7 separate regions of the Homo sapiens genome follow, and all the other regions are reported to be linked to region 7. The links are microRNA targets in miRTarBase. Many come from high-throughput screens and were not tested one by one. Region 7 holds a microRNA gene; each other region holds the end of a gene's coding sequence.

The links. The annotated mature microRNA hsa-miR-92b-3p reads UAUUGCACUCGUCCCGGCCUCC and lies in region 7 at 1,025-1,046, shown strand. An mRNA with a match to its seed (bases 2 to 7 or 8) in the 3' UTR can be bound and repressed. Matches are read on the target gene's strand: a 7mer-m8 pairs with bases 2 to 8, a 7mer-A1 pairs with bases 2 to 7 and ends in A, and an 8mer does both.
Region 1: the mRNA of CEP152 is a reported target of hsa-miR-92b-3p. The part of its 3' UTR that is shown has no 7-base or 8-base seed match.
Region 2: miRTarBase lists PIK3AP1 as a target of hsa-miR-92b-3p. Seed matches in the 3' UTR shown: 8mer at 1,495-1,502.
Region 3: the mRNA of PHLPP2 is a reported target of hsa-miR-92b-3p. Seed matches in the 3' UTR shown: 7mer-m8 at 3,455-3,461 and 8mer at 475-482.
Region 4: miRTarBase lists UBE2Q2 as a target of hsa-miR-92b-3p. Seed matches in the 3' UTR shown: 7mer-A1 at 3,684-3,690.
Region 5: miRTarBase lists TSC1 as a target of hsa-miR-92b-3p. Seed matches in the 3' UTR shown: 8mer at 659-666.
Region 6: miRTarBase lists VPS54 as a target of hsa-miR-92b-3p. Seed matches in the 3' UTR shown: 7mer-m8 at 1,308-1,314.

The regions. Positions count from the first base shown.
Region 1 is chr15:48,734,277-48,738,955 of GRCh38, reverse strand. CEP152 (centrosomal protein 152) reads left to right here. Exons shown (of 27, transcript NM_001194998.2): 27 at 1-1,018. The coding sequence ends at 707. Among named protein-coding and RNA genes, the nearest start is that of CEP152, 74 kb to the left of the region's middle.
Region 2 is chr10:96,591,892-96,596,570 of GRCh38, forward strand. It overlaps PIK3AP1 (phosphoinositide-3-kinase adaptor protein 1), which reads right to left. Exons shown (of 17, transcript NM_152309.3): 17 at 1,424-3,743. The coding sequence ends at 3,686. All of the region lies in intron 2 of LOC105378443 (a long non-coding RNA gene), which reads left to right. Among named protein-coding and RNA genes, the nearest start is that of TM9SF3, 7.2 kb to the left of the region's middle.
Region 3 is chr16:71,645,277-71,649,955 of GRCh38, forward strand. PHLPP2 (PH domain and leucine rich repeat protein phosphatase 2) reads right to left here. Exons shown (of 19, transcript NM_015020.3): 19 at 1-4,679. The coding sequence ends at 3,614. Among named protein-coding and RNA genes, the nearest start is that of MARVELD3, 21 kb to the left of the region's middle.
Region 4 is chr15:75,898,836-75,903,514 of GRCh38, reverse strand. UBE2Q2 (ubiquitin conjugating enzyme E2 Q2) reads right to left here. Exons shown (of 13, transcript NM_173469.4): 13 at 2,437-4,088. The coding sequence ends at 4,057. Among named protein-coding and RNA genes, the nearest start is that of FBXO22, 2.7 kb to the left of the region's middle. RefSeq lists an enhancer at 1-469.
Region 5 is chr9:132,891,994-132,896,573 of GRCh38, reverse strand. TSC1 (TSC complex subunit 1) reads left to right here. Exons shown (of 23, transcript NM_000368.5): 23 at 1-4,580. The coding sequence ends at 339. Among named protein-coding and RNA genes, the nearest start is that of SPACA9, 15 kb to the right of the region's middle.
Region 6 is chr2:63,889,791-63,894,373 of GRCh38, reverse strand. VPS54 (VPS54 subunit of GARP complex) reads left to right here. Exons shown (of 23, transcript NM_016516.3): 23 at 839-2,224. The coding sequence ends at 944. It overlaps UGP2 (UDP-glucose pyrophosphorylase 2), which reads right to left. Exons shown (of 10, transcript NM_006759.4): 9 at 4,189-4,293; 10 at 2,814-3,254. The coding sequence ends at 3,147. Among named protein-coding and RNA genes, the nearest start is that of UGP2, 50 kb to the right of the region's middle.
Region 7 is chr1:155,194,213-155,198,212 of GRCh38, forward strand. It overlaps MIR92B (microRNA 92b), which reads left to right and starts at 965; the gene lies at 965-1,060. It overlaps THBS3 (thrombospondin 3), which reads right to left. Exons shown (of 23, transcript NM_007112.5): 18 at 3,830-4,000; 19 at 3,668-3,716; 20 at 3,251-3,447; 21 at 2,829-3,001; 22 at 1,775-1,914; 23 at 1,376-1,687. The coding sequence ends at 1,629. It overlaps THBS3-AS1 (THBS3 antisense RNA 1), which reads left to right and starts at 785. Exons shown (of 6, transcript NR_183238.1): 1 at 785-1,160; 2 at 2,639-2,805. RefSeq lists a silencer at 468-797 and enhancers at 1,954-2,789, 2,790-3,625.

The sequences.
Region 1 (4,679 bases), not on the chromosome of region 7:
ACAAGAAGAAAGACCTACTCAGTGATAATGGTTCTGAATCACTTCCGCATTCAGCTGCATACCCCTTTCTTGGAACCTTAGGAAATAAACCCTCACCTAGATGTACCCCTGGTCCTTCTGAATCAGGATGCATGCATATAACCTTTCGCGATTCTAATGAAAGACTTGGTTTAAAAGTATATAAATGCAATCCACTAATGGAAAGTGAAAATGCTGCATCTGAGAAAAGTCAAGGTTTGGATGTTCAGGAACCTCCAGTAAAAGATGGAGGGGACCTTAGTGACTGCTTGGGCTGGCCTTCCAGCAGTGCAACCTTATCCTTTGACAGTCGTGAAGCATCATTTGTACATGGTAGGCCACAAGGAACTTTGGAAATACCAAGTGAATCTGTTAAATCCAAACAGTTTTCACCATCCGGTTATCTTTCAGATACAGAGGAAAGTAATATGATTTGTCAAACAATGAAATGTCAGCGTTATCAAACTCCATACCTGTCAGAAGAAACCACGTATTTGGAGCCAGGAAAGATCAGTGTGAATTGTGGACACCCATCTCGTCATAAGGCTGATAGATTAAAGTCAGATTTCAAAAAACTGAGCAGTACATTACCATCTTCAGTGTGTCAGCAGCCTTCAAGAAAATTAATTGTTCCGCTATCTAGCCAACAAGATAGTGGCTTTGATAGCCCATTTGTTAATCTAGACTAATTATGGTACAGTATTTAAGAAGAATCATTAATATATTAACAAAAATGGAAGGGAAGACCTCATACTGAAAAAAATTGTGAGCCCTGCCTCTTTTGAGATGTTTTAATAACATCTGTTATATAAGTAAAGCATTCTTCTAAAATTGCTTGAGATATTTATGTTGCCTTAATATTCCAAAGGCCTGATGGTGTATGTATAATCTGCTTTTGTGTGGTGCTTATTTTTGGTTTCTAAACCATCTATTTTTATACTTATAAATTGACTCACTCTGCAGTGTTAACTTATTTAAATAAACTTGCATATGGTCTGTAGAATTGTTATGAATTATTTTGTGGTTCAGAATACAGAAATGTCATATTGGCATCATGTTTGAAATTCACCCAGAAAAAAACATAAATTTTGATTATTTGTATGTGTTAGTCAGATTTAGTTTTTGAAATTAGTCATGTTTAATGAGGCTATGAACTTAATCTACATAGACTTTTCCTAGCAATATCTACTCAAAATTTTGATCTTTTTTTCAGTTAGAGGTTTTCCAGGGTTTACTACAAAATACATAGCTATGTCCTGGTTTTATTATTTAAATATTAGTCTGAATTTTTTTAGTTCTTACTTGCATTATTTCAGATCATCTGTGACATCCAAAAACTTTGTCTCTTTTATGGCTTCACATTTGTTTTTTCATCTGAAATACGACCTTTTGAAAAATTGAGATAAGTTTTGTCATGTAGCAAAAAATGTAAAACGATTAGATTTTTACATTCATTTATAGTGCAGAACTGGCTAATTAATGCTCTAGGTTAAAGGTTATAATTCTAAACTGAAGAATACATGCAGAAATGAATGACTACCTAAATATCATTGTTTTTAGGTGAATTCTTTTTCAGATCCCTAGCGATGGGTATGAACATTTAGCTGTATGCAAGTGCTTCCGAAAACAGTTAACTATAGCTTTCTCTCACATCTCCCACACCTACTATATTATGGATTGTATTTGGGGGTTAATCTAGTGTATTTTTCCACCCAGAGCCAGATAACTTAGGTGGTGATGGGGAGACGGCAAGATGCATCCTCCTCCTCCTGATAACCATCTCTAAAAGCAAGAACCGAGAAGGAAAACTTTTTGGGCTTGGAAAGCTCTGTCACCTTAACTCTTGACCAGGGATAAATAAGTCTAAAAATTGGTCCTGGACTTCAGTGCTTGAATTCACATACAGCTATAGTAAGGAACAAACCATCTTGTCAAAGTCTCACTTGTATTCCTGAAGATACAATGCTCCTTCTCCAACAGTTAGGCTGTCATCTCTCACTCTAGAAAAAAACTCTAAAACAGCCAAGTTTATGCTCCCTATGGATCTGGTTGGTGCTTGATCGTTTTAAGCCCTTGTTTTTAGTAAACTTAGAATCTAGGCTCGTTGCTCACCTACCTTTTCCACTTGGTTCAAAATCCATGTCAGTTATTTAAACTCTCAACATTAAGGTTGAAATTGGAAGTTCTCTTGCTTTCTGCTCCTTTTAGAGTATCCTTAATCTTTTTTGATACTCATAATCTCAATAGGATTAAGTTACTTTATGTCATACATCCTATATCCAATTGGTTGGAGATAGGGTGTGGTATAGGGTGTATGACAAGGTAACCTAATTCTATTATGATAAATATGAAGGTATCCACTTATTAGTGTGCAAATGAAGGGACTACACAGCCAAACTATGACTAGTGGTGTACATTGGTTTGAAAGGTCATGGCAGAACAAAAGGGAGGCAGGAGCCCTGTAGATATCATGATCACATAAATCTCACTTTGTCATGATATTTAGCCCTTTTTTTAATGTTGCTGGATTTTTATTTTATTTTATACTTTGTTAAAGATTTTCATGTGTATGTTCTTGAGAGATATTGGTCTCTTGTTTTCCCATGCTCTCTGTCTTGCTTTGGTAAAAGGGTAATACCAGTCCCATAGGGTGAGTTGGAAAGTGTTTCCTTGCCTGTGTTTTCTGAAAGAATTGGTGTAGCATTGGTATTACTTCTTCTTTATATATTGGATGGAGTTTACTAGGTGAAGGCATCTAGCCTGGGCTGGTGGTGGGGGTGGTGCAGAAGTGTGGATTTTAAGTAATGTATTTTCTTGTTATAGAGCTATTCATAATTTCCATTTTTTCTTTAGTCAGTTTTGGTAGTTTTTGGTTTTTGAGGAATTTGGCTATTTTATCTAAATTGTCTAATTTGTTGACACAGTTAGCCATAGTATTCTCATAATCCTTTCATTTCAGTAGGCTTGATAATGATGTCCCCCTTTCATTCCTGATTTTGGTATTCTGTGTCATCTCATTTTTTTCTTAGTCTATCTAAAGGTTTATCAGATTAGTTGATTTGTTTTCCCCCAAAGAACTTTTGGGTTCTTCTCTTTTCTCTTGTTTTTCTATTGCCAATTTCATTGATTTTTCCCTCTTCCTTCTGTTTGCTTTATGTCTAATTAACTGTTCTTTGTTCTTTTTTTTAAAATTTATTTATTTTTGAGATGGAGACTTGCTCTGTCGCCAGGCTGGAGTGAAGTGGCGCGATCTTGGCTCATTGCAACCTCCGTCTCCCGGGTTCAAGCAATTCTCCTGCCTCAGCCTCCCGAGTAGCTGGGACTACAGGCGTGTGCCGCCATGCCCAGCTAATTTTTGTATTTTTAGTAGAGACATCGTTTCACCATATTGGCAAGGCTGTTCTTGAACTCCTGACCTCAAGTGATCCGCCCACCTCCGCCTCCCAAAGTGCTGGGATTACAGGCATGAGCCACCACGCCTGGCCCTTCATCGATTCTTAAAGTGAAAGTTTAGATTATTGATATGAAACTGTTCTCTATTGATATAGATGTATAAAGCTCTGAATTTCTCTCTAAGCACTGTTTAAGTTGCACCTCATATGTTTTGATATGTTGTATTGTTGTTTTCATTTAGTTCAAAATATTTTCAAACTTCCCTTGCGATTTTTCTTTTGACCCACAGATTATTTAGAAGTATGTTACTTCATTTCTAAGAATTGCAGATTTTCAAAGTTTCTTTCTTATTTATTTTTAATTTACTTGTTTTCAGATAATATACTTTGAATGATTTCCATCCTTTTAAATTTCTTGAGACTTGTTTTATGGCCTGGCATATGGCCTATCCTGGAATGTTTCACATGCACCTGAAAAGAATGTATATTCTGCTCTTTTTGGATGGAGTATTCAAAAATGTCAGTTCAAGTTGGTTGATAGCATTGTTCAAGTCTGCTATAGCCTTGCTGATTTTATTCCTATTTGTTCAACTGGTTATTAAGAGTGAGATATTGTAATCTCTGGCTGTAATTGTTAAACTTTTTTCTTTCAATTCTGTCAGTTCTTGCTTCATGTATTTTGAAGCTTTGTTGTTAGGTATATATACCTTTATATCTGTTATGCCTTTCAGATGAATTGGCCCTTTATTATTTTAAAATATCCCTCTTTGTATCTACTATATTTCTTGTTTTAAAAGTCCATTGTGTCTATAATTACTACAGCCACTGCAGCTCTCTTATGATTACTGTTTGCATGGCATGTCTTTCTGTTTTTTTCCTTTTAACCTATTTGTATCTTTTAATTTGAAGTGAGTCTCTGGAAGACAGTATAGTGCTGGATGTTGCTTTTTTTTTTTTTATCAGAGAAGCTTTGATTGGAGTTTTTAGGTGCATTAAAATTTACTACAATTTTGTTAGGTTTGCATTTTCCATTTTGCTATTTGGTTACTGTGTATCTTTCGTTATTGAATTGCTCTTTTATTGCCTTCTTCTGCATTAAACAGATATTTATGAGGGTACCATTTTAGTTTTTTTAACCTTTTTTTTTTTAGCTATTTTTCTAAGTGGTGTCTCTACTTATCATAGGTATCTTAACTTACTACGGCCTACTTCACATGAATATTGACTAACTTCTGGTACAATATAGCAACTTTGCCCCAGTTTAGCTTC
Region 2 (4,679 bases), not on the chromosome of region 7:
GACTATTTTATGTTCTTAATAACTTGCTTGGAAATGAACAGAGCACAATTTATCAAACCAAAGCAAATATTTATACAGGCAGATCCCTTAAAATTGAGGATTAATGCTTAGGAAGAATTTTTTAGAATTTTCCAAATTAACCACTTGTCTTTCTCAGAAATAAATCTGTTACTGATGCTTCCTCCACCAACCAGCTGCAAAACCACACACTATTCTTTGAAGGAGGAACACAGAAAACCAACTTACTTCCTGGGGCATTTGGGAGAGGAATCTAAAAATCCTAGTGATATGGCAATGACTAGAACCTTTTTTTTTTTTGTAACAACAAAGCTAAAAGGGGATGTGTAACTTAGCTTGACTTGTAAAAATATTCGTAGAAGTCATCTATATTTTACCACTTTGTGTAACTAAGGCAGAGCATTAGAGATTATTCACATCATTAAATATGTCCAGTTAAATTATTAGATTACAACACCAACCTCTTGTTCATAGTCTCTCAGTCTTCAGCTGGGCACGGGGGCTCACGCCTGTAATGCCACCACTTTGGGATGCCGAGACGGGCGGATCACTTGAGGTCAGGAGTTTGAGACCAACCTGGGCAACATGGTGAAACCCCGTCTCTACTAAAAATACAAAAATTAGCTAGGCGTGGTGGCAGGTGCCTATAATCCCAGCCACTCGGGAGGCTGAGGCGGGAGAATCACTGGAACCCAAGAGGTGGAAATTGCAGTAAGCCAAGATGGCACCACTGCACTCCAGCCTGGGTGACAAGAGCAAAACTCTTGTCTCAAAAAAAAAAAAAAAAAAATAGTCTCTCAGTCTTCATACTTTGTTGCTTAGTTGGATTATCTGCTCCTAGGTTTTAATATAAGATGAAATAAAAGTGCTGGCCTAGGAATTGGAGGCCAATTTACCTTAGGGGCAAAGGCAATGGTGGTGAATATACCCAACAGCTTCACTTTCTATGGAGCCAGCTTGTAAAATCTTGGGCAAGGATGGTGGCAGCAGAGCTGTCTGCCTAAGCATCATGTAGAAAATTTTTTAATGGTTTCTTTGGACCCTAGCTTGCAGTGTCATTTCTGCTTCTCATTGTATTGGAAATCCATGGTTTTGTTACATAATGTACTCCTAAAAATGTATACACATGTGTTGAGTATGTGGAAGTTGAATATATTTATGTTATAAATGAGCAGTTCTGTTTCTGGAAAATGAAAATTTTCACCTCATCACTACAGACATTCTTTGATAACACAGTCCCAGTGTTTCATCCAGATTATTTCATTTTCTTCTTTTACATATAACCAACCATTTTGGATGTTAAAGGAACAACCAGTGAGGGCTTAAGATCTGCTGCTTTTGACTTGGCACTCCTGATCAGTTCCATCCGTGTCTCAAGTGTATCACATTCACGAGACAAGGCTTCTCATCAGCAATTTCAATTTTATGTTTTCTACTTATTTTTATATAAGAATACAATGCAACAAAATATTCATATATTGCACAAACAGTGATGTGCATACAAAGATGCTAACAACATTGGCTGGTAATAGGCTTTACCATGTTACGATCTAAATGCTTGTTCATCAGAGAATGTACAAAATTCTAAGTTTGGCATCCAAAAGGGGGCTTACAGTTATTGAATATTTTTCCCAGCCCTATTTTAAATCAAATTCAAGTTTGCCTATGACAAAGACTGTCTATAAGTAACAGGGCAAGCATACCAACATCAAAATTATTCTTCTTCTTATCTCACGTGCCCCTATTTCTCCCAAATAAGTGACAAGGAGAGTAAAAGGATCACTGAGGGAACATTTGAAGAATGCTACTAAGTGCCAGGTCCTGTACAAGGTAATTAATTACTACAAACACTCTCGTGATGGACATGGCCAATAGTGTATTTTGTCAAAAAACAAAAACAAAACCCAAGATTCCAGAAGCTGTTTCTGACAAGAAGTCCTTGTTTCAGTACTCTTCAGTATGAGTCCTTACTTGCAGGACTGAGGAATGAAATTGAGAAAGAACCTTTAATCATTAGAAAAGGACCCAATAAAACTATACTTAAATGGATCATTAATGTGGATTTTTTTACATTCGTGTGGGATAGAGAATAATCCCATGGGAAACAAACACATTTTGAATATTTTTTAAAGAAGTATTTCTGATTCTAATTTTACTGTATGTTTAGGCATCATTAAGGACCTCTGATTTGAAGGTAGATTTATGTGCCAGGGACTCCAAATTCATGACATGTTTTAAGGCTCCATATTCCATGCAAAAATGGACTTACTGAGCATGGTGGTAATAATAAGTATGTAAAAAATAGATAACTACAGTCGTACTTTGGTATCCATGGGGGATTGGTTCCAGGATCCCCCAGTATCAAAATCCACAAATGCTCAAGTCCCATATATAAAATAGCATAGTATTTGCATATAACCTATGCACATCCTCCTGTATGCTTTAAATCATTTCTAGATTTCTTATAATATCTAATACAATGCCTACACATCACTTCATTTACATGAATTCAACATACTTCTTGGCATGCAGCAAATTCAAGTTTTGCTTTTTGAAACTTTGTAGATTTTTTTTCAAATATTTTTGATCCAAGGTTGGTTGAATCCACGGACACAGAACCCATGGATTTGAAAGGCTGACTGTATTTCTATTTTAGGTTTGTTTTTCCTCCTCAGAAGCCTCAACGAAGAAAAAGTCAAAGGTCCTTCTCTCTCTATGACCAGAAATAAAACCTATAAAGGAAATAGAGCACTAAGTGGGGTCCCTGGAATCCCCAGCTTCTGGTTTCCAGCCACTTCTAGATGTTCTCTGGAAACATAACTGCGTTGAAACCATACTGAAGTATAAATTCCCAAATTGGAAAGAAAACAAACAAACTTGGTAGTCTCATGCCTGGGAGATACGGAAGATGGAAAATTCTGGAAGACCAATAGGCACTGATGAATTTCTACATCTGGGCATTTCTTGAGGGAGAGAGGGCCTGGCTATTTGGAGATGGAAAATGTGGTGACCTAGAATGAGCAGGCCCAGTCTAGACTAACCTCTTTATTTAACCAACTGAATAGTCTTGGTTCCAGACTTCTGTGGAACCTCAGATTTGCCTTCTGTATAAGAGGAGTTTGTACTAATCCCTCTAGTCTTTTTCAGTTGGTTGTGTGTGACCAGCCCTAGCACTTAAATACCCTGCTGAATATACAGAAAAGTAGAAGAATTATTTTAAAATTAGGTCACTTATCTTACTTGAATACTACAAGTCTCACACTATAACCTCTTCTAGAAATCAGGCTGAACTAGCAAATACATAAAGACTAATATAAGTGCATTTCAGTAAAATCACTGGTGAAGTACATTTATGATCATTCTTTTTAGGCTTCTGATATGGCAAATTAGAGGTAAGTATTTCGATTAAGTCTTCATCCTTTTGGCAAACAAGTATATGGTTCGATATACTTGGTGATGGTGAATGAAGCCCTTAGTTTTTCACTTCTTCGTGCCTTAATAAAATCTTCGAGGCAAGCCCAAACCAGCAGGGCTGCAGCATTATCAGCAATGAGAATGGATCTTAAGGTCAACAGTCATGCTATAAAACTCAACATGAAGACATCATTAACAGGCTGAAGACTGTGAGTCTTAAAGTCCTGAAGTAGGCAGGTTTTAGGAGGTGGAATCAGCGTCCTCTGGGTGGAACAGGTGGAGGAGGATGGAAGGTCTCCCTGGTCGGAGGCCTAAAATGAAAGATAAGGCAACTCTATTTAAAAACTAATTTGATTAAACAGTTCTTAGGAATGCACAATTTGTTGCAAACTTGGTATACTATGCAAAGGACACAATCCTCAATGAGACAGGACACACATATGAATGTATGAGTGACACGCATGCTAGCTGTGGCTTGCAATCCTGGCGGCACATTAGAAACACCAGTGGAGCTTTTAAAAATACCAATTCCAAGGATCCATCCCAGACCCATCGCATTCTAAGCTCTAGAGGATAGGACTCAAGCCACAAAGCTTTTGAATAGTTTCCCTCCCCAAACAGCTGTCCTCACCAATCCTTTCATTATCTGATGTTTTGCCATCTTGGGGCCTTGCTGACCCTGGAGAGACTGCCCCTCCCAGGGTAAGCTAAAATTCCTAGAAACAGCAAACAAGCTACTTGCCTTCCAGTGCTAAATATACCTTTCGTATGCAAACCAACCAGTCCAGATGCATGCCCCAACCACCTCCTCTATGGGGCTTTCACACTCCACTTTATGGGGCCACCATCCACTTGCCCTTATCACCCTAGGGCCAGGTACCAGACGACTAGAGTCAGCCCTTATGCCTCAGAGCCAATGAAATTATTCAAACTAGCCAATTCTAAATCTTACCCAGGCTCACCTGTTTTGTCCCATGGAAACCACAATAAAAGCTCTTGTCCACATTTTCCCCTGCTCCTCTGCCTCCTCACTGGCCCTGATGCTTCCCCATGTAGCCCCCTATGGGTTGATGTACCCCTGTTTTGGGATCTGTGAGTATAACAAACTATCTTTTCAGTGGCAGTTGTCTCCTGAGCTGTTGACTTTGCCATACCTACATAATAATAAAACCTAGGTTTTAAAACACCAGCAATTCTAATAGCCACTTGGGAGACACACTGTAGTAGGGAGATTTGTTGAGAGAGGA
Region 3 (4,679 bases), not on the chromosome of region 7:
TGCTTTTTCTCAATCTAGGAAGTGCTTACCCCAACTATGGGGCAAAAGTCACTAACTGGAAAGATTAACTTGCCTTCATGATTGGGAGTCGGAAAGCCTCCACCCAGAAGGAAGTAAAAAGTGACACTAGACAGTCCTATAGTGATGCTGAAGACATCACTGAATGGCTTGGAGACTAATTATTTAATAATTGGTACATTTATCGATAACAGCCAGCTGCTCCCTTATGGAGGTCTCTTCATTAATAATTATTGGATAGATAGAGAAGGTGAGCCTGTGGCTTCCAAGTACCGGCTTTTGCTGAAGGTCTACATGGGAAGAAGAGCATCATTTGATATTCAGTAGATCTGCCACACCCAACTGGCTCCATCTCCTGGAAAACAGCACTCACTACAAGCAACTGTAATAGCACCCAGCAATGACCACGCTGCTCCTGCTGGCTCTTCCGTACACCAGTAAATGAACTCACCAATGTATTGCACACATACACTTCACAGTAGTACAATAAAGCCCTGTATCAGGAGTGGTAATTCAATGACTTGACTCTATAGTGCACTGCAGCTTTATGTCATACCAACATTCAAATATTCAAATATCCTTCCAATCCATTTGGACAAAAATACACCATGGCTGCCAAGACACATGTATTTTTCTTTCTTCCATGGACTCCTAAACTGCTCCCACAATCAGCAGTGTTCTTCTCTCAGAAATTATCTTAAGCTTCTCTACTCAATGGGAGGTACACACAGAGACCTGAGAATATGCAGAGGCCAGAATCTCTGTCTGTGCTAGAGATCAACTGTACTCTGCCCACCTGGGGAACACATCCTCTGGGTAAAGTACTCGGAAGTAAATTACATTCACCTGGAGACAGATACGGGCTTTCACTGACAGCCTGTTTAGAAAACACAATGTCTGTAAGTTACCTCATAGGTCAAAGAGTTTTGTATTATATTTTTCATAATGGGCTATGGCCTTTTTACCCTGTTTTAATACAGAGCAACTGCAGAAGGACATGAATTAAAGCAGACTGCAAAAAAGAATAATCAGTTTTGGTATCGCCTATAACAAAGATTTTCAATACAACCTAATGGTTCCTGAAAAAAAATTCTACCACACAGAACAACATTTGGAATTACAGAGTTCTGCTGACTAAAAAATAAATACATTTACTTTTGGTAAGGTCATTTCAGAACTGGGTTTTGAGGTGGTTCCAATAAGTAGGTTGGGAAACGAATAGCAGACAAGAAGGGTTCACCATAATGAATAATTTTTATAAGACTATACTATTAAAGTGGTGTATTCCCAAAATAACTTTAATTTTTAGACATCACTATTCTACAACCCGAAGGTTCTGCCATCTAAGTAAGATGTTTTACATCACTCATCACTATCATCCTGTTATTTCATTTTCATTTTTTCTTCATTAAAAAAAATTTCCCATATAAAAATAAGGTGGCAAAACACTCTTGTTCCCATCTTTCTAACAGCACCTAAACTCTGTGTGAGCCACTATGTTCCCTACTTCAAATCAAAGACCTGAGTTCTAAAATTCTCAATAGCTGACCAGTAGTTTGACAATCTGGGGACTCAAGTTCAGATTCTCGAGGGGTTGAACATTAGACATCCATTAGAGTGTACCAAATCCCCCAAGAGTGTATCCCAATGACACGTGCATATGAGCATGGGGCCTCTGAGAAGATGAAGACACATAATTATTATGGACAGGTCATCTGATTTTGACTATTGCTTTGAACAAAAATCTTCCCAAAAATACACACGAAAATATATTTATATTTAACCCTCTCTTTAACATAGTTTCTGATGAAACAAATTAAAAATGGCCCTACTTTATTTTTAATTGTAAAAGTGTTCCAAAAATTCAAAGCACATTCCCCATTGGGTAAAATCAAGCAATGCCAACATTTTGTGGGAATAAATAGGAATTAATTTTCCTAAGCAAATCTTCCAATGGAAAAAGTGACAGAAGTATGAAGAAACTGCATTTTGCTAGGGTTATGTGGAATGTGCAAAGAGTATAGGTTTTCTGTAAGCTTAAGAATTTCTCAATGAAGTGTCTTTCTTATGTTAGTATTGAGCCCAGTATTCTGAAACCACATAAAGTGAATATGCAGTTTTCAGAAGAGTACACTGTTCAACATTCAAGAGGCGAGCTCTCAACTCACCTCCAACATTCTAGAGAACCATCCCTCTCCTCCAGCATAGGAGAAGGAACAAGTCTAACCTGAGTGCTCCATCCATCTGTTCTCATTGGCCTCAGTCCGTTTCAGAGTCATCTGCCATAACTTAAGGTCACGTGGATGCAAGCAGTGTCAGCCTTGGGCCCCCGCTCCCCGCCCTTAGGAAGCTGTCTGCCAATTCCTCCACATGCTAGGGAAAGACGCCAATCCCTAAATTTCCCTGGGAAATACCTAGCAGGTATCATATTTGTCAAGGGGTAATTCTCTTTTTCTGATCTAGGGAGAAGTAGTCTAGGTCCTCACGCCTTCCCCATTTTCATCCCCAAAAGAAGATCCTATTACCCCAAGTTTCTCAGGAGCTTTCACAGTCTGACATCCAAAAGTTAAATCAACTTCACAGGGCCCTTCCTATACCCTCGAATAAGTCTCCAACACCCAGTTCTCTCTCTGCCTATGGATGAAGGTGCCGGGCTGCCTCTAAGAAGATTGGCTCGAGTGCAGATTCAAAAATAAAAAGTTCACAGTCAATGAAAAGTGCTCTCATTACATTACATACATAAATTATCTGTTTGATTGGTTCTACATTTCCAACAGACATCATTTTGATAGGCTGTATTCTCGTAGAGAAGAATGAAAAGCCATGTGACTAGTCACATCACACCCCATTAGTCTGAGATAAGGTGATTTCTCTGTCACAGAGATCCATCAGCAGCAACTAGTAAAGAGAATCAATCTTCACTTTTTTCCTCCACAGAAATAGTCCCTTTCCTGCCCAGGCAGGCAAATTCTCAAAATGATCCTAGGAGAGAAAGGGTTAATGGCAGGTGGTAGGACTGATACAGAACAGCTGCTTTCTTCCCAGTACCCCTGGGAATTCCAATGCAGGTTAAATGTGAAACTTAACACTGATAGTGGCTACCAGTTTATCCAGAGCCAGCCCCTGATGGCTCTCACACTTTTTGGCTCCGAGTTCAACCCCACACAGCTATGGTTTAGAAATGTAGACGCAGGGCTGGGCATGGTGGCTGAGGCCTGTAATCACAGCACTTTGGGAGGCAGAGGAGGGTGGATCACCTGAGGTCAAGAGTTCAACACCAGCCTGGCCAACATGGTGAAACCCCGTCTCTAAAAAAAAAAAATAAAACTTAGCCGGGCATAATGGCAGGTGCCTGTAATCCCAGCTACTCGGGAGGCTGAGACAGGAGAATGGCTTGAACCCAGGGACAGAGGCTGCAGTGACCCGAGACCCCACCATTGCACTCCAGCCTGAGCGACTGAGCAAGACTCCGTCTCAAAACAAACAAACAAAAAAAAAACGAACAAACAAAAAGAAATGTAGAGGCAGAATGCCTCTAGCAAGTCCCTACCCCAACCCTGCACAGCCTCCTCCCACACTGTGCCCAGTGGGGCAGTCATAGTGCTGTGTCGAACTCCTCCGGGGGCTCGGTCCGATCCTCTTCATGGGGCTCAGGCTCGAGCCGGCTGTCCTGGTGCTGTTTCATTTGTTCCTTCACTTCTTCTTCCAGGTCATGAGGCACAACAAACTGGTCCTCTGGTTCCATCTGAGTGGGGGCAGCAAAATAGCCAGTTTTCCTCTTGGGCACTTCTGTGGCCACTTCAATGAGGTTCAGGCTGTCCTCTAGGGGCACAATAGAGCCATTGGAGAGTTTCTTCCCATAGAGGCAGGAGGTGGAGGGAGACTTCTGTAACTCCATCCTGTCCTTGCTCATTGGCAGGAGCATGCCACTATTCACACTGTTCTGTCTTCGGATCCCAAAACACGACCCTCTAGCATGTTCCTCAGAACACAGGGTAGGAGAACTCTCTATGAGAGGGGGTGAGTTCTCCAGATCCCTCCCCCTGCAGCAGTGGATGTCTACTTCCACCTCTACCTTGCTGCCATTGGTTATGACCCCCTCAACGGGCTGGTCATCATCACTGTCCAGGCCGTTGTCAGACTGGTTACTGGAGAAGGTAGCAGAAGAAGGCTGGCGCTGAAACAGCCCAGAGGTGGGTGTTGGGTGGAGGCTGCAGCGCCGCTCTGGCCTCGGAAGCAAGGCAGTGTCCAGGCCCCCAGCATTATGCTCATCAGAAGCAGTGGACCCCACTTCACTGCTCACCTCTGAGGTGGACATCTCACTGCTGAACTCAGAGGCAATCCCACTGCTAGAGGATGGAGTGGCTGGCTTAGGGGCATCCTTGATAGTGGTGGTTGAAGCAAATCCCACAGGACCTGGGAGGGTGAGCCCATTCATTTCACAAGTGCAGCCTTCCTCACCAATATTCAAATAAACTACCATCGCCCCTACATTGTCCTGACAGCCATAGCTCTGCGCTAATGTGCACAGCTTCTTAGCAGCTGCTAATGGGTCTTGTACGTGACGTACAGCATTGACAGCTTCTGTGTAGGACAAGTGTTCCCACAATGCTTTGTTTCCCAGAATCAGCAACTCATCTTGAATGGTCAGCGGAGTGGAA
Region 4 (4,679 bases), not on the chromosome of region 7:
CAAGGTGCTGGAATTACAGACATAAGCCACCGCTCCTGGCAACTTTCTAGGAGGCCTCCTGCAGTGAAAATAAATTCTTCTTCTGTGCCTGTGCCTCTCACTGCCCTGGCACCGCCATATTTCTGAGTTTACATCTTTCTCTAATTCACAAATTCCTTGCAGGGACTAGGTAGTACTTATTGCTCTTCGTAGTCCCAATGCCTGTTTAAATAGCATAAGCTCGATTTATAAACGGACGTTTGCTTTTAAAAAATTGTCTTAGTGTGTGAAAATCACTGCCTTTATTCCTTGTAAACTTAGTTAACTCGTTGTAATCTTCAGGTTTAAAGTTTCGAATGAGTAAAATGGCATAAATAGCACCTGCCATTCTAAGGTAGCTGAGTGAGATGATTGCTGTGAAGCACGCCCCAAGCTGTGCACCAGTTCCCCGCCAGGGACATCAGATTCACCTGGAAACTACTAAGTTTTAGCACATTCCCGGTCCTTATCCCAGACCTCCTGAATCAGACACTGGGGGTGAGGCCCAGCAATCTGTTTTAACACACTTTATGACGATTCTGATGCATGCTCAAACTGAGAACCACCAAGAAATGGAAGCACAGCAGACACAGGTTTGTCCCCACCTAACATCCATTCCTCCCGCCAATTCCTTCCTAAGGGAGCCCTGATTTGATCGCCAGATCTTGGGCAGAAACTTGGTCTAAATTAGCAGTTCTCATTATGGCCTCAGGACCCTTTACACCCTAAAATATTGACACGACCAATAGTTTATGTGTGTTATGACTATCAATATTTACCATATTAAAAATTAAATCAGAACATCTTAATGCTTAACTCTTTTTAAAAAACCGATGTTATACATTAACGAAATATTTTTATGGAAAACAATTATTTCCCAAATCCTCCTTCCCCCACTGGTGGATAGTATGACATTGTCAGTGGCATAAGCCTCCTGAGTAGCTGTGGTTTTTTTCTTTTTTTTGGTAGACCCAGGGTCTATGTTGCCCAGGCTGGTCTCAAACTCCTGGCCTCAAGACATCCCTCTGCCTCCGCCTCCCAAAGCGTTGAGATTACAGGTATGAGCCACCAAGCCCAGCCAGTTTTTTCCCATAGTCTATTTATAGGCGCAGCTGCTTAAGGAAGCCAGATGGCCCAGATGTCACCAGAGCTTCCTGACCCCTTGCGGAATACCAGAGGAAGATAAACAGGCGCCCTCCAGTTACCTTTAGATAATTAACATAATGCTAAAATCCTCTCCCTAAAGAAAGCTCACTGGCATCTTACGAACATGGATGTATGAAGCAGCATGTTCAGGGACTATGCCTGCTTGTCTGGAACTCCAGTCTGTGCATGCCGTTCATACCTCCCCCGCCCCTCAGCTAACTCTTTAAACTCCCCAGCCTCCCATCCCTCTGGGAGAAGGTGCCTTTAGAGTATGAGCTCCCCTTCTCCATTCTCTGGCTACTGAATGAAACCTGACTGCCTTTCAAAGTGGGCGTTCTTTCTTTGTGGCTGATATAAAGTAGGGAAAGAGGACAGTTTACCAGTGACGGCATCACTACATTTTTGCAAATATTTAATTTGTCTTAATAGAAGACAAATAGATTCTCATATTTGCTTCTGAATTCAATCTGTTGCAAAATCACATCATGTAGCCTCTGGAAAATTCCATTGTACACATGGAAGAATGAGTGAAAATGGCAAATGTTTTAATATTATGAAAATAGTCTTTTAAAACCTCTTGAAATGGTCTCAGGGGTCTCCAGTGTTCCCCAAATAAGGCTTTGAGAACCATTTGTGCAAACTAATCACGATGGTTTCATTCTTTTCACCACCATTGGTTTAGGGGTGGGCACAGGTCCCTGATGTAGCCAAGGAAAGGCAAGAGGCAGTGTGCTTGATGGGATGGTGCTTTTAGAGATTTCCTCACCTCCTAAGGAGACACTAGAAGACAGGGCCATTTATCTACCTCTGGATCAAGTAAGGGGGCTGCACATAACATGCAACCAAAAGATGAAACCAACATAGAAAAATCTCAAGGAAGCAGAGCAAAGCCCAGATGTACAGTACCTGGAGTTGTCCTACCTCTGGACTTCTTGTATGTGAAATAATCTGTCAATTGTGTGCAAGGAGGCCATGGGTATGCTAAGGAAGGAGCAGATTATTTTCACTGGGGGAACTAAGGATAGCCATAAGGAAAAAGTAGCACTTGAATTTATAATGAGAATGGAAGAGGAAAAAGGCGGAGGAAAAGGTGACTATTGTACAGACTATTTCCAGGTTCTTTCACACTTTCACTTTCTCTTGTTAAATCTGCCTGTCTTCCAAGCCTCCCCTCACCACTTCCCTCCTTAAATATCTTATTCCAGAAACTCAATAAAGCCTACAAACACATCAAGCAGAGTTTTCTTATGAGGGAAAAATGAGAAAGTAATCTTTTTTTTGCTTGCCATGATCAGCACAAACAAAATTTTTAAATGGTTCTTTATTCATAAACTTGATGCAAGTTTACAAAATTTACTGTACATTGCCAAATAAATCTGCAATTAAAAATAAAATCCATTAAACAAAGCATGCCAAATGTGCAGCTATCAGTCTGCTTGCCATCAGGATATTAAAGAATTCAACAATGTATTCAAGATTTAGCCTTAGGCTTAAGGAACTTTACTGATTTAAAGAATTCTGCCTTGTCACTTGTTATCTGAGCAACTGGCAATCAGAACTTTATACAAATGTAATCAAGTGAACAAGAATACCAGAAAATCTATTTACTGCTCTCTTAACCAAAATGGAATCAAAAGAAATTAAACACACACAATGTAGAAATGACAAGTCTCTCAGATGTGGTTTACAAAGTTAAAAACTGAATCTCAAAGCTAATGCACAAGAAACACTTTTGAACTTTGTAACTTGTTTGTGCAGAAAAATGTGCTTCTGGATTTGTTAAAAGTGCTTAAGAACTAGAATTTACTTTTAAATCAAACGTGGGTGTATAAAAAAATCTATTACCAACCAAAAAGGACTGATTCAGGTAAGGCAATAAAATGGAGAGTACCTTGATTTGAGTCAGGTTCTATAAAAAAATTAACATATGTAGAGTTTCTATTAATCTTTCAATGTAAAAGCCATTGTTTTGACATGGCAAAAATTACTGTAAGAGTCTCCAAATTAAGTATCTTTTTGTACTTAACTGCACAGCTTTTGCTCAAGGAGTCTTTGTGCCAATCACTTTATAAGTTTATTAGTTTACAAACGATTGCAACATCCCGTTAATAAAATGGAAACGTAAGATGACTTAGTATTTTAAATAACTTGAAGCTCTGTACTGTGGCTCTTGTTCATAAGAAACACTGAACCAACAAGCAGCAGATTCAGCCCAGCCAAGACTCTGATGCCCCAGTGGAAATCACTACTCACAAGCCTTAATTGATACAGTTTTACACTGCTTTGCCTAAGAAGTACAATACAACTCAATTAAGAGTATTATCTTCAGGAAACAATTCATATCTTCACATAGTCATTAAAAAGTTTAACAATTTAATGAGTAGGTTTCCTATCACATTTTGGCAATATCATAAAATGGTTTTAGACATGAAAGAGCTATTATGATTTAGAAGGCCTTAAATTTCCTAAACCAATATTGAACATCGATTAAACCTGTATTGGCTGTAAATGGAACAATATATTGCAAATCCTTGTAACCCATGGGCTCAATATAGGAAAGTTACCCTAAAGCCTCAACTTCAGTAGCCTGATGTTGACTTGGCTGCTTTAAAAAGTTCACTTTTCAAGAAAAAGAGATAAGGAGTGGCCAGTATGTGTATTTATCAGGAAAAATACAGTAAAGGCCCCACTGCTCAGTCCAAGATATCTAAAATGAGCAAAATGCAAAGGCTGTAACTTATACTGGATGTCAGATGACAGATTATCCACTAAAATATCTATTAACTAACATCTTCGGTACTGCTGTAATAGGGGCACTCAAAGCTTTTGTCTGCATGTTAGAAAGATTTTCTTTAAAGCAACATTAGTCCAAACATACAACAGTCAACACATTTAGCCATCTTCCTTTGGAGGGGTGTACCAGCCTGAAATAGAATGAAAAAAAAAAAGTTAAAATAATTCTTAAATAAATTAGAAGAACTGGCATGTAATAAGGTTAGCTACAGTCTCTTTTCATAATTTTGGTGTTTAAAATCTACCGTAAAAAATATATATATATATTATATATATATTTTTTGAGACAGAGTTTCACTCTGTTACCTAGGCTGGAGTGCAATGGCGCAAACTCAGCTCACTGCAACCTCCACCTCCCAGATCAAGCAATTCTCCTGCCTCAGCCTCCCAAGTAGCTGGGATTATAGGCATGCGCCACTATGCCCCACTAATTTTTTTTTTTTTTTTTTTTTGGTATTTAGTAGAGACAGGGTTTCACCATGTTGGTCAGGCTGGTCTCCAACTAATGACCTCAGGTGATCCACCCACCTCCACCTCCCCAAAGTGCTGGGATTACAGGTGTGAGCCACTGCACCCAGTCTACTCTAAAAATTAAACTTACACTTGGATTGGGAACACTGCATTTTGCTATTTCACAACAGAAAGTTATTTTCTATGAATAAATTGTACCTGAGTTTTCAACACAAGAGCTCTGTATTAATGGCATCTCTAGCTAAAGATGA
Region 5 (4,580 bases), not on the chromosome of region 7:
CACCAGAGGGCAGGCCCATTCAGCAGTCGGTGGGAGACGACTATGGGAGAAGCGTCTGCCAGCATCCCCACCACTGTGGGCTCACTTCCCAGTTCAAAAAGCTTCCTGGGTATGAAGGCTCGAGAGTTATTTCGTAATAAGAGCGAGAGCCAGTGTGATGAGGACGGCATGACCAGTAGCCTTTCTGAGAGCCTAAAGACAGAACTGGGCAAAGACTTGGGTGTGGAAGCCAAGATTCCCCTGAACCTAGATGGCCCTCACCCGTCTCCCCCGACCCCGGACAGTGTTGGACAGCTACATATCATGGACTACAATGAGACTCATCATGAACACAGCTAAGGAATGATGGTCAATCAGTGTTAACTTGCATATTGTTGGCACAGAACAGGAGGTGTGAATGCACGTTTCAAAGCTTTCCTGTTTCCAGGGTCTGAGTGCAAGTTCATGTGTGGAAATGGGACGGAGGTCCTTTGGACAGCTGACTGAATGCAGAACGGTTTTTGGATCTGGCATTGAAATGCCTCTTGACCTTCCCCTCCACCCGCCCTAACCCCCTCTCATTTACCTCGCAGTGTGTTCTAATCCAAGGGCCAGTTGGTGTTCCTCAGTAGCTTTACTTTCTTCCTTTCCCCCCCAAATGGTTGCGTCCTTTGAACCTGTGCAATATGAGGCCAAATTTAATCTTTGAGTCTAACACACCACTTTCTGCTTTCCCGAAGTTCAGATAACTGGGTTGGCTCTCAATTAGACCAGGTAGTTTGTTGCATTGCAGGTAAGTCTGGTTTTGTCCCTTCCAGGAGGACATAGCCTGCAAAGCTGGTTGTCTTTACATGAAAGCGTTTACATGAGACTTTCCGACTGCTTTTTTGATTCTGAAGTTCAGCATCTAAAGCAGCAGGTCTAGAAGAACAACGGTTTATTCATACTTGCATTCTTTTGGCAGTTCTGATAAGCTTCCTAGAAAGTTCTGTGTAAACAGAAGCCTGTTTCAGAAATCTGGAGCTGGCACTGTGGAGACCACACACCCTTTGGGAAAGCTCTTGTCTCTTCTTCCCCCACTACCTCTTATTTATTTGGTGTTTGCTTGAATGCTGGTACTATTGTGACCACAGGCTGGTGTGTAGGTGGTAAAACCTGTTCTCCATAGGAGGGAAGGAGCAGTCACTGGGAGAGGTTACCCGAGAAGCACTTGAGCATGAGGAACTGCACCTTTAGGCCATCTCAGCTTGCTGGGCCTTTTGTTAAACCCTTCTGTCTACTGGCCTCCCTTTGTGTGCATACGCCTCTTGTTCATGTCAGCTTATATGTGACACTGCAGCAGAAAGGCTCTGAAGGTCCAAAGAGTTTCTGCAAAGTGTATGTGACCATCATTTCCCAGGCCATTAGGGTTGCCTCACTGTAGCAGGTTCTAGGCTACCAGAAGAGGGGCAGCTTTTTCATACCAATTCCAACTTTCAGGGGCTGACTCTCCAGGGAGCTGATGTCATCACACTCTCCATGTTAGTAATGGCAGAGCAGTCTAAACAGAGTCCGGGAGAATGCTGGCAAAGGCTGGCTGTGTATACCCACTAGGCTGCCCCACGTGCTCCCGAGAGATGACACTAGTCAGAAAATTGGCAGTGGCAGAGAATCCAAACTCAACAAGTGCTCCTGAAAGAAACGCTAGAAGCCTAAGAACTGTGGTCTGGTGTTCCAGCTGAGGCAGGGGGATTTGGTAGGAAGGAGCCAGTGAACTTGGCTTTCCTGTTTCTATCTTTCATTAAAAAGAATAGAAGGATTCAGTCATAAAGAGGTAAAAAACTGTCACGGTACGAAATCTTAGTGCCCACGGAGGCCTCGAGCAGAGAGAATGAAAGTCTTTTTTTTTTTTTTTTTTTTTTAGCATGGCAATAAATATTCTAGCATCCCTAACTAAAGGGGACTAGACAGTTAGAGACTCTGTCACCCTAGCTATACCAGCAGAAAACCTGTTCAGGCAGGCTTTCTGGGTGTGACTGATTCCCAGCCTGTGGCAGGGCGTGGTCCCAACTACTCAGCCTAGCACAGGCTGGCAGTTGGTACTGAATTGTCAGATGTGGAGTATTAGTGACACCACACATTTAATTCAGCTTTGTCCAAAGGAAAGCTTAAAACCCAATACAGTCTAGTTTCCTGGTTCCGTTTTAGAAAAGGAAAACGTGAACAAACTTAGAAAGGGAAGGAAATCCCATCAGTGAATCCTGAAACTGGTTTTAAGTGCTTTCCTTCTCCTCATGCCCAAGAGATCTGTGCCATAGAACAAGATACCAGGCACTTAAAGCCTTTTCCTGAATTGGAAAGGAAAAGAGGCCCAAGTGCAAAAGAAAAAACATTTTAGAAACGGACAGCTTATAAAAATAAAGGGAAGAAAGGAGGCAGCATGGAGAGAGGCCTGTGCTAGAAGCTCCATGGACGTGTCTGCACAGGGTCCTCAGCTCATCCATGCGGCCTGGGTGTCCTTTTACTCAGCTTTATAACAAATGTGGCTCCAAGCTCAGGTGCCTTTGAGTTCTAGGAGGCTGTGGGTTTTATTCAACTACGGTTGGGAGAATGAGACCTGGAGTCATGTTGAAGGTGCCCAACCTAAAAATGTAGGCTTTCATGTTGCAAAGAACTCCAGAGTCAGTAGTTAGGTTTGGTTTGGTTTTGGACATGATAAACCTGCCAAGAGTCAACAGGTCACTTGATCATGCTGCAGTGGGTAGTTCTAAGGATGGAAAGGTGACAGTATTACTCTCGAGAGGCAATTCAGTCCTGGGCAAAGGTATTAGTACAATAAGCGTTAAGGGCAGAGTCTACCTTGAAACCAATTAAGCAGCTTGGTATTCATAAATATTGGGATTGGATGGCCTCCATCCAGAAATCACTATGGGTGAGCATACCTGTCTCAGCTGTTTGGCCAATGTGCATAACCTACTCGGATCCCCACCTGACACTAACCAGAGTCAGCACAGGCCCCGAGGAGCCCGAAGTCTGCTGCTGTGCAGCATGGAATTCCTTTAAAAAGGTGCACTACAGTTTTAGCGGGGAGGGGGATAGGAAGACGCAGAGCAAATGAGCTCCGGAGTCCCTGCAGGTGAATAAACACACAGATCTGCATCTGATAGAACTTTGATGGATTTTCAAAAAGCCGTTGACAAGGCTCTGCTATACAGTCTATAAAAATTGTTATTATGGGATTGGAAGAAACACGTGGTCATGAATAGAAAAAAAACAAACCCAAAGGTAGGAAGGTCAAGGTCATTTCTTAGATGGAGAAGTTGTGAAAGATGTCCTTGGAGATGAGTTTTAGGACCAGCATTACTAAGGCAGGTGGGCAGACAGTGACCTCTCTAGGTGTGTCCACAGAGTTTTTCAGGAGAGAAAACTGCCTGACCTTTGGGACTAAGCTGCGGAATCTTCTTACTAAGCTTGAAGAGTGGAGAGGCGAGAGGTGAGCTACTTTGTGAGCCAAAGCTTATGTGACATGGTTGGGGAAACAGTCCAAACTGTTCTGAGAAGGTGAACTGTTACGACCCAGGACAATTAGAAAAATTCACCCACCATGCCGCACATTACTGGGTAAAAGCAGGGCAGCAGGGAACAAAACTCCAGACTCTTGGGCCGTCCCCATTTGCAACAGCACACATAGTTTCTGGTATATTTGTTGGGAAAGATAAAACTCTAGCAGTTGTTGAGGGGAGGATGTATAAAATGGTCATGGGGATGAAAGGATCTCTGAGACCACAGAGGCTCAGACTCACTGTTAAGAATAGAAAACTGGGTATGCGTTTCATGTAGCCAGCAGAACTGAAGTGTGCTGTGACAAGCCAATGTGAATTTCTACCAAATAGTAGAGCATACCACTTGAAGAAGGAAAGAACCGAAGAGCAAACAAAAGTTCTGCGTAATGAGACTCACCTTTTCTCGCTGAAAGCACTAAGAGGTGGGAGGAGGCCTGCACAGGCTGGAGGAGGGTTTGGGCAGAGCGAAGACCCGGCCAGGACCTTGGTGAGATGGGGTGCCGCCCACCTCCTGCGGATACTCTTGGAGAGTTGTTCCCCCAGGGGGCTCTGCCCCACCTGGAGAAGGAAGCTGCCTGGTGTGGAGTGACTCAAATCAGTATACCTATCTGCTGCACCTTCACTCTCCAGGGTACATGCTTTAAAACCGACCCGCAACAAGTATTGGAAAAATGTATCCAGTCTGAAGATGTTTGTGTATCTGTTTACATCCAGAGTTCTGTGACACATGCCCCCCAGATTGCTGCAAAGATCCCAAGGCATTGATTGCACTTGATTAAGCTTTTGTCTGTAGGTGAAAGAACAAGTTTAGGTCGAGGACTGGCCCCTAGGCTGCTGCTGTGACCCTTGTCCCATGTGGCTTGTTTGCCTGTCCGGGACTCTTCGATGTGCCCAGGGGAGCGTGTTCCTGTCTCTTCCATGCCGTCCTGCAGTCCTTATCTGCTCGCCTGAGGGAAGAGTAGCTGTAGCTACAAGGGAAGCCTGCCTGGAAGAGCCGAGCACCTGTGCCCATGGCTTCTGGTCATGAAACGAGTTAATGATGGCAGAGGAGCTTCCTCC
Region 6 (4,583 bases), not on the chromosome of region 7:
GCTAAGTCATTACTTTTTTCCATTATAACCATGCCATACTGAAGATCTTTATACATGTCTAATGGTGTGACCATTTCTTCAGGGCATATACCTATAAGTGAATTGGAGCTAATACACTTTTCATATTGTTAGGTATTGACAGTGGCTGTACCAACTCCCACATTAGTGGAGTAGTTTGTGAGAATTTGTTTCCCACATCTTTTCAACATTTGCTGTTAGATTTCCTAATTGTTGCTAGTCTGATGGGGGATAGTAGTACCTTGTTTTGATTTGCATTTTCCTGACGTTTACCATTTTTTCAGTTTATTGGTTATTCAGGTGTTTTCATCTGTGACTTCTTATGTTCTTTCCTATTTTTCTCTTGGGTTTTTAAAGAAATATCCAGTATCGCTTATATACATGAATACTAGTCTGTATTTAACGCCTTAGATGACACTTAGAAACCTAGCCTGCTTTTCCCTTGAGTTTACTATTTTAGTCAGCACTCCCATACTCTAGTGCTAACCAATCAAAAACATTTTAGTTTAGCCTGTTATTTTCTCTGTATATTAATTCATGCTGTTTCAAGATAAATCTGATTTTCTTGGGCTGAATTTATCATGAAACTGACTCTAACAGCCATTGGTTTATTCATTTTCCAAATATTTATTATTGAAGTACAGCATTAAATGGCCTACTTATTCATAGCAGGAATCCTGCTAAGTAAAGTATTTGGACACTTGGGCACTAAGAAATCTGAATTTTAGATAATAGGACTCTGACTCGGTGAGCACTGTTACTTTAATTATCTGAATAGAAAGTTTGAGATTTAAAAAATAATTTTCTCTCCATTATTTAGGTTGGTCACAGCAGATGTAGCTTTTTACACTGGAAATCTTCAAGCCTTAAAAGGCCTTAAAGATTTGGACCTAAATATGGCCGAAATTTGGGAGCAGAAGAGGTGATGTCATCCTGGAAAACTGGGTAGTTCATCTGACCATGGGATGTGTTTGTTATGAAGAAAATCTGGATGCCTGTGATTCGAGAATTGAACCTGAAACCCAAAGTGAACTGGGGTGGGGGAAGGGAAAAAGGAAAGTATCAAGTGTTGGGAAACTGGATTCAGTGGGATCTACAAGGAATGTCATTTTTGTGCATCCTACAGTGAGGAGTAACTGATCAGGTGTCTATAACATTTTTCATTCTCTCTGGAAACAGACTCAGGTTTCTTTGGACCAAATCCAAAAGAACACATAGCTGTAACACAGCTGTAGTTGACTAGAATGCTCTGTATACTTTATATTAAAAAATGCTTTGCATTTCTTCCAGTGCAATGAAATTCATATGGTGTCCCACCTTATTTAATGATGGTACAATTTAAAATCTTAGTCAACTTCTGTAGAAAGTTTTCTCTATGAAAGTAAAGCTGTTTGAAAAATTATTATTTTTTTACAGATCTTTCTATAAAAAATAAACATCTTTTGATTGCTTGGATTTAGGAATTCAATTTTTGTTTCAGTGACCAATGTCAAGTTGCAGGCTTTGTGTGTTGCATATTTAATATTTCTACTACCACCGTATGTCAACTGGGTAAAGCCTTCCAGAGCTCTCTAAATACCTGAAAGACTTAAGCCTTTTTTTAAGTAATTAATACTTAAAAAAAAAGATCCTGGCATCTATTTATGCAACTAAATACTTTTCAGAAATGGTATATAAAAGGCTACAGTTTAATATCTGTATTTTTATAAAAGTATGATGAAGGGTTTGGGGTGTTTTTATTTGTAGCAGAGGTAAGAATATGTATTCATATAATCTGCCTACTTTTGAGTTCTCATATTAACATTTAGATAACATATGAAGTATGGCCCCCTTGGATCCTTGTTTTTAAGTTACTTTCGATGTGTATACGAACAAAGACCAGGGAGAAACAGAACTTTTAAAACTATAGGCTGCTGTGTTGGGGCCAGAAATAAGGTGACAAGTAAAGACTTTTATAATACCTACCTTCAAAATTAGAATCAGCAGCACTGTACAAATAAAGTGCCTGTGCTTCACCTCACACCAAGAATCTTGCCTAACCCTGTCAGAGTGCCTAATATCCTGTGGTGATTATGTATAATGAAACAGTCTTATTTTGTGCTCTTTGGTTTCTTAAAAGGAAAGCTTGTTTTCTTTCCTTTATCATTACAGAGGTATGTCTTTGGTTCTTAAACTATCTGTCTAAAATAAAGCTGTAAAAAATTAACAGACTTTAAAAGGCAACTTTTTTTTAAGTGGTATATTGTGAACTTTAAACAAGCAGCCTACTCAAAACAAGTATGGATGAATTTAAAGAAAAGGCATAAATTGAACTACCAGCAGACCTGAATGGAAAGATTATTAATGATCATTTTTTCAGTGATAATAAACAAGCTTCAGGAAATGAAGCTTCAGGGAAAGGGAACTTTTTATGAAGCTATACCCCCTACCTCACTATAGAAGAGTACAAGGATGTGAAGAAATGCCTTCCCTTTGCCCACCCCCGTCAGCTGGGAAAATAAATGCCACTTTGTTTCAATAAATGGAGAGTTTGTGGAAAGCATGGCAGGCATCCCAGTTTTAGAACTAGATGAAAGGTAGGTACTAAAGAAAATACCTTCAGTTTAATTCCTGTGGAAATAATGGTATGATTAAGATTCTTAGAAATGCCAAAAACTGGACTCATTAAGTACACACTGGCTAGGTAACTAGCCAGTGTGTACTTAAAGGGCAAATCTTCCAACTAATATAGTAACTGTCTAACAACAATAAACCAGTTTATAGTTAGCATTATAAAGTACCAGTGTACACAAGTATTGCTTCACTGCTTTATTTTTGAAATCACAAGCAATTCAAAGTGATCATCATTGAGGCTTCTGTTAAAAGTTCTTCCAAAGTTGCCCAGTTTTAAGATTAAACAATATTGCACTTTAAGATGAACTAACTTTTGGGATTCTCTTCAAAGAAGGAAAGTATTGCTCCATCTGTGCTTTTCTTAGACTAAAAGCATACTGCAGAAAACTCTATTTTAAAAATCAACACTGCAGGGTACAGTAACATAGTAAAGTACCTGCCTATTTTAGAATCCTAGAGAACATTTCATTGTAAGAAACTAGCCCATTATTTAAGTGTCCACAGTATTTTTCATTTCAGTGGTCCAAGATGCGAAGGTTTCCAGACACAATCTTGTTCTCTAATACTGCTCCAGGTGGGATATCAATTCTGTCACCATGATTTGCAATGATGATAACCGTTCCCTAAGTGACAGGGAAAACAAAAGAGTGTACTTGCAACTGAAATGCAATTTGATTATCTTACAGTGATCAAGTTTATGTACAACTTTTTTTTTTTTACAGTGAAGTAACTTTTTTTATAAACAATATTAAACATGAAAAACAAATAACAGTTAAGGAAAATTGTAATGTGTCCTTCTGTAACAATCCTGGCAGTAGTTCTAGATTCTCTGTCTCCTTGTTAGAGGTAGAACTAAGAGCGGGAAGTGGACCCGGTGCCACAGCATGGCCAGCCCCTTTTGGAGGCCTACTTGCAAGGCCACCAGCATTATCTAACCTTCATAGAGAAATTAAAAGGTGCTTGGTTTACATTTACATATAGGGCTTTTGTTGTTGTTTTTATAACAGTTTACTGATAAGATTTTTCATGTCTTAAGTCTTTAGGCAGTCTCAGCAATAAAATTCAATATATGTATTTGTTTTTTCAAGATCTTCATTTAAGTAAGTAGCTTTAATGGGAGGAGTATATGAAATCTAGTTAGGAGATTTTTTAAAAAATTACATGATTTGGAAAAAGCTATTGTATCTTTGGTGAGCTTTAATACTTTTATACCCCCGTTTCCCTCCTATTTCTTACGTGAGGCTGGAATGACACTGAAGAGTACCTGAGTACTACAATAATGTAAATGAATATTCTTACAGTGATAACATTCCTTTAATAGGTTATATTCAGTACAAATTGTCATTTTTTTTCTGCTTTTACTCAATCATCTTTAGTAAGCTAATGCTAATAGTGATCCTATTTTAAAGATTCTCATTTCAGTAAAATAATTACACTAGTAATTAAGGTGGCACTAAGACTAACAAGTATTCCTTAAAGTAAATGTAAATTTATGACTAGAAAATGAGACCTATATTGTAAGCTGTAAGAAATATAATTTTCATTGTAACAACATACCTTTAATGAAACATTTTTTCCAAATGTCACATCTCCTGAAACTGTGAGGTGATCCAATTCAAGCATATCTGGTATACTTTCAAATCTTCTTAGATAATCTTGAACCTTACAGAAAAGGAGAAACATAAAAATTTGTCTCAAATGGGTTCAAAGAAAGACAGGAAAAATATTAACAAGAAAGTTTAACTGAACTGTAGAAACCTTTTTTGGCAAAGCTCAGGTCCTCTGTGGGAAGCACCTACTTATTAAGCACTCATTATATGCTAAATGCCGTGCAGGAAAGACCAGGAGCTACAAACATTGTTTTTACACCAAGCAATTTACAAGATAGTTGAGCAGATCTAAGGGTTTTTTTTCTTTTTTTTTTTAAAGATAATCAACATGCCAAGAGCCAG
Region 7 (4,000 bases):
AGAATCGCTTGAACCCGGGAGGCGGAGGTTGCAGTGAGCCGAGATCGCGCCATTGCACTCCAGCCTGGGCGACAGAGCAAGACTCCGTCTCAAAACAAAAAAGGGGGGGGCAGAGAGTAGGTGGGGTGACAGAATGGGATTTACGGACACAGAACTATCCTTTGGGGAGCAGAGTGGTATTGGGGACAGGTAGGCACGTAGCGGGGGGCAAAAGCACACGTGAGGTGCGTAATGCGCGACAGCCAAGAGGTGTGTGCGGCAGCAGTGCACGAGGGGAGGAAGCTATCCCAGGCCGCGGCAGCACGTGGAACTTGGGTCCCGCAGTCGCAGGCTGCGCTCTAGGCCGACGGAAGCAGTTCCGCCTGTATTCAGAAAACAGTTCTCAGCCCCAAAGACACAGGTTGGAAAGAACACTTTAAAAACACTTCGGCGAGGCACGGGATTGGAGCGCATCAGATCAGCAGGCGAGAGACCACAGCTCTCGCCCGCGCGCCGCGCGGCGCCCGAGGCGCAGCTTTGTGTGCGGCGAGACCCTGGGGCAGGCGCTGGGCGGGGTGGGGACATCTGACGTCAGCGCGCCCGGGAGCGCGGGCCGGGGAGGCGGGGAGCCCCCCAACTCGCAGGCCGGAGAAAACACGAGTAGCTAGGTGGGCGGCCCCAAACCTCAACTCCCGGCATTGCCAAGCAACAGCCATTCAGTTCGGTTGCTGGGACACGCGTCACCATGGCGACGGCTCCGCGCCGCGCAGTCTGAGTACTTAAAGAGCAAGCGCGCGCAACGCCCGGGCGTCGGAAAGCGGCCTTCTGGGACTCCGCAAACTCCCGTTCTCCCTCCCCCCTCCCCCTTGCCATTCCCTTTGCCTTCCGGGCGCCAAGTCTCTCTGGCCTCCAAGGTGAACCCAACTCCCCAGCGCGCCCCGGGTTCCCGGGTCGGGCCGGCTTCAGGCGGTGGGGAGCGGGATCCCGGGCCCCGGGCGGGCGGGAGGGACGGGACGCGGTGCAGTGTTGTTTTTTCCCCCGCCAATATTGCACTCGTCCCGGCCTCCGGCCCCCCCGGCCCCCCGGCCTCCCCGCTACCCCTAGCGGGGCAGCCCCCGCCCTCCTGGCTCTCCATCCCGGCGGATCTTTGATAGACTGGAGTGTCGCCGCTGCCACCGTGAGTAAGTGGGTCTGGGAGGACTTCGGGCATCCTCCCTCAGGCACCCTATCCTTCACTTAACTCCATCCAGCACCTCCCCCACCCGCATCCCCAAATCAGCCAAACTTCCCCTAGATCCCTAACTTCCACCCTCCCAGGCTTTCTCTTCTACTCGCCGATTCCTTCCACTTCCCCACCCTATCCCGGAAAATCCCTAAAATAAGCAGTTGCACTGGCTTAGAAAACAACCAAAACTTTATGGCAATGTGCTGTCATCTTTCCTGGGGTTAGTGCCTGAGTAATACCCCTTGAAAACTTCTCATCCCCTGAAGGGTGGGGTGACCACCCCTCTGGGACTGAACTCCTTTTGGGAGCCAGAGAAGGGTCTGTGGTTGGCTGAGGGGCTGTAGCTTAGACCTCAGGGTCTCCAGGATGGACCCCAAGGCCAAAGGGTCTAAAATTCTGAATTCTGAATCTGGTGGCCTCCTCCTCACACCCTTCCCTGGAGCAGCTGCCTCCGGAATGGCTCAAAGTCCTCAGGCACTGTGTCTGAAGAAGGGGAAATAAGTAAGGTCAGAGGATGTGGCTCTCCCACAAGGCATGAAGGATTAGGTTGATCTCAATCAGCCACCTCACCATTGCATCGATACTGGAGATTGGACCAAATTATGTTTTCTTGGGAGAAGCAGAATACACCAAGACGCCCCCCTCGCATGGATGTGTCAATGATCACCCCAGAATCCGCCACAAGCTGGGGTCCCTCATAGAGCTTCACCCTGTCCAGGATTCCAGGATAGGAGTATCCATTGGTGCTAGGGTGCCAGTGGGCACTGTGCCACCATGCCTGGGGCCTTGCTTTTCCCCAGCCCCCCTTGAGCTCACCAGGCCTGAGAGAGAAGGGAGGGAGGGAAAGGGAGGCAGGAAGGAGAGGGAAGGGGGGTGCTTTTCTCAGGCCTGGGGCCCCTAGCTCTTTGTCCAGCTCCTTTTGCATCTCAAAGCACCAGCCGCATTCCAAGCGAGGATTGGGTTGCCATGACAATAAGCACAATGGGCTGGGGGGTGAAGTCACCCGCTTCCCAGGCTCTAGTCCACCCCCTTTTATCCCCTGTCCTGGCACCCCACAGCCCCAGGCACCTTAAAGGGGAACCAACCCAGGTTCCTGGACTCTGGGCTCTTGGCCATGGAAAGTCCAGCCTCTAAGCAGACCCATTTCCCCTCCCTTCCTGTTCATCTCCACCAACTAGGGCTACTTGTTGGAGAGAAATGCAAAGTTGTGGACAAAGTGTTGAACCGAGGCCTGTGAAGTCAGGGCCTTGATTTTCTCTTCTGTAAATGATGATGCCTTCCAGGTCAGATGATCCCTATCCACGTTGATAAGACAGGTTCCAGGTCATACCAACTAAGGGACCAGATGTGATGTGCCCCTTCACAGATTGGCCTGGGTTTGGAGGCTTCTGGAGAACTGTAAAGGGCATCTAACCCAATGCCCTCATTTTACAGACGGGAAAATGGGTCATGGAGGAGTGACTTCACCAACATCACTCATAGGTGCTTGTGTCCGTGGTGAGAAGGGTGATGGAGAGAAGTGGCTGCAGTTCCCACCCATGGAGAGGTCACTGGTGAATCCCAGCTAAAGAGGAAGGACAGGCCCGGCCTGAGTCCCACAGGTGGGCTCAGCCCCTCTCCTTACCGAATGTAGCCAACTTGAGGCCGGTGCAGAAGCTGCCAGCGATAGGAGGTCTTGTCCCGCCAGCCCACATTTCGTGGGTCTGTCCACAGCAGTCGTACCTGATCAGGGGTGTGGCCAGTATGCCACAGGGCATTTCGGAGGTGCTCACCTGGGCCAGACACTGATGTCACTGCCTAGGAGACATTGGCAAAGACAGTGGGTCAACTGCAGAACTGGAGTGAGGGGAGACAACAGGTCGGTAAGTGCAGGTGGGAAAGGGATTCAAGGCGGTCATGAAAATGCCCTGGGGCCCCAGAGAGCCGGCCTCCAAGCCAGATGTCTGGGTAAGAGGGTTCCCAGTCAAGCAGTGGGGGAGGCCCTGGGGCTGCAGAGGAGAGCTTTGGGAAAGGGCCCTGGGTTGCGGAATCTGAGCAGCTGGGGACCTTGAGCTGCAGCCCGGGCTGGGCAACCGCCCGGAAGGGTGTAGCCTGCCAGTAGGTCTGCTCGGTCTGCTTCCACATGACTACGTAGAAGCGGCCACTGTCTTGATAACTGAAGAGAAAGCCTGCGTAGTCATCATCAGTCACTGTGTTCACATGGAAGGTGCCTTCAAAGTCCACACCATTGAAGGCCGTGTATCCTGGGGTGGGGGTGGGATAAAGGTCAGGGGCAGCAAAGCTACTGGCGGCCCATCATGGGGTAAAGTTGGGAAGGGATGCCTGCTATGTATGTGGCCAGCTTGTGCCACTGCCTTCTCTCTCGCCACTTTGCCCATTCTCCCTGTCTGTTTCCTCCCCTACCCTCTGCCCCTATAGGATTCCTCCATTTGGAAGTGATTGAACTGCATATCCCTTACATACCAACTGCCAAGCCAGGGTCACTGTTCATGGTCTGAACGATTTCCATGCCCTGGGGTTGTATAGTAAAGAAAAAGCTGTGATGCAGGTGTGCTATCCCTCCCAGGCCCCCCGTCCCAGTAGCCCTGTCTGATAGCACCTGCCCAGCCCACTGCCCCGAGTTACCTGGTTGAGCACAACCCAGTTTGGGTCAATCTGAGCATCACCCTCAGGATCCAGGACGACGGTCTGATAGGCCCGAAAATCCGTAAGCGTTACCTCTGCACTTTCAGGACACACATCCAGGGGGTCGACCACAGCATCATTGTCAAAGTCATCCTCACACACATCACCAAC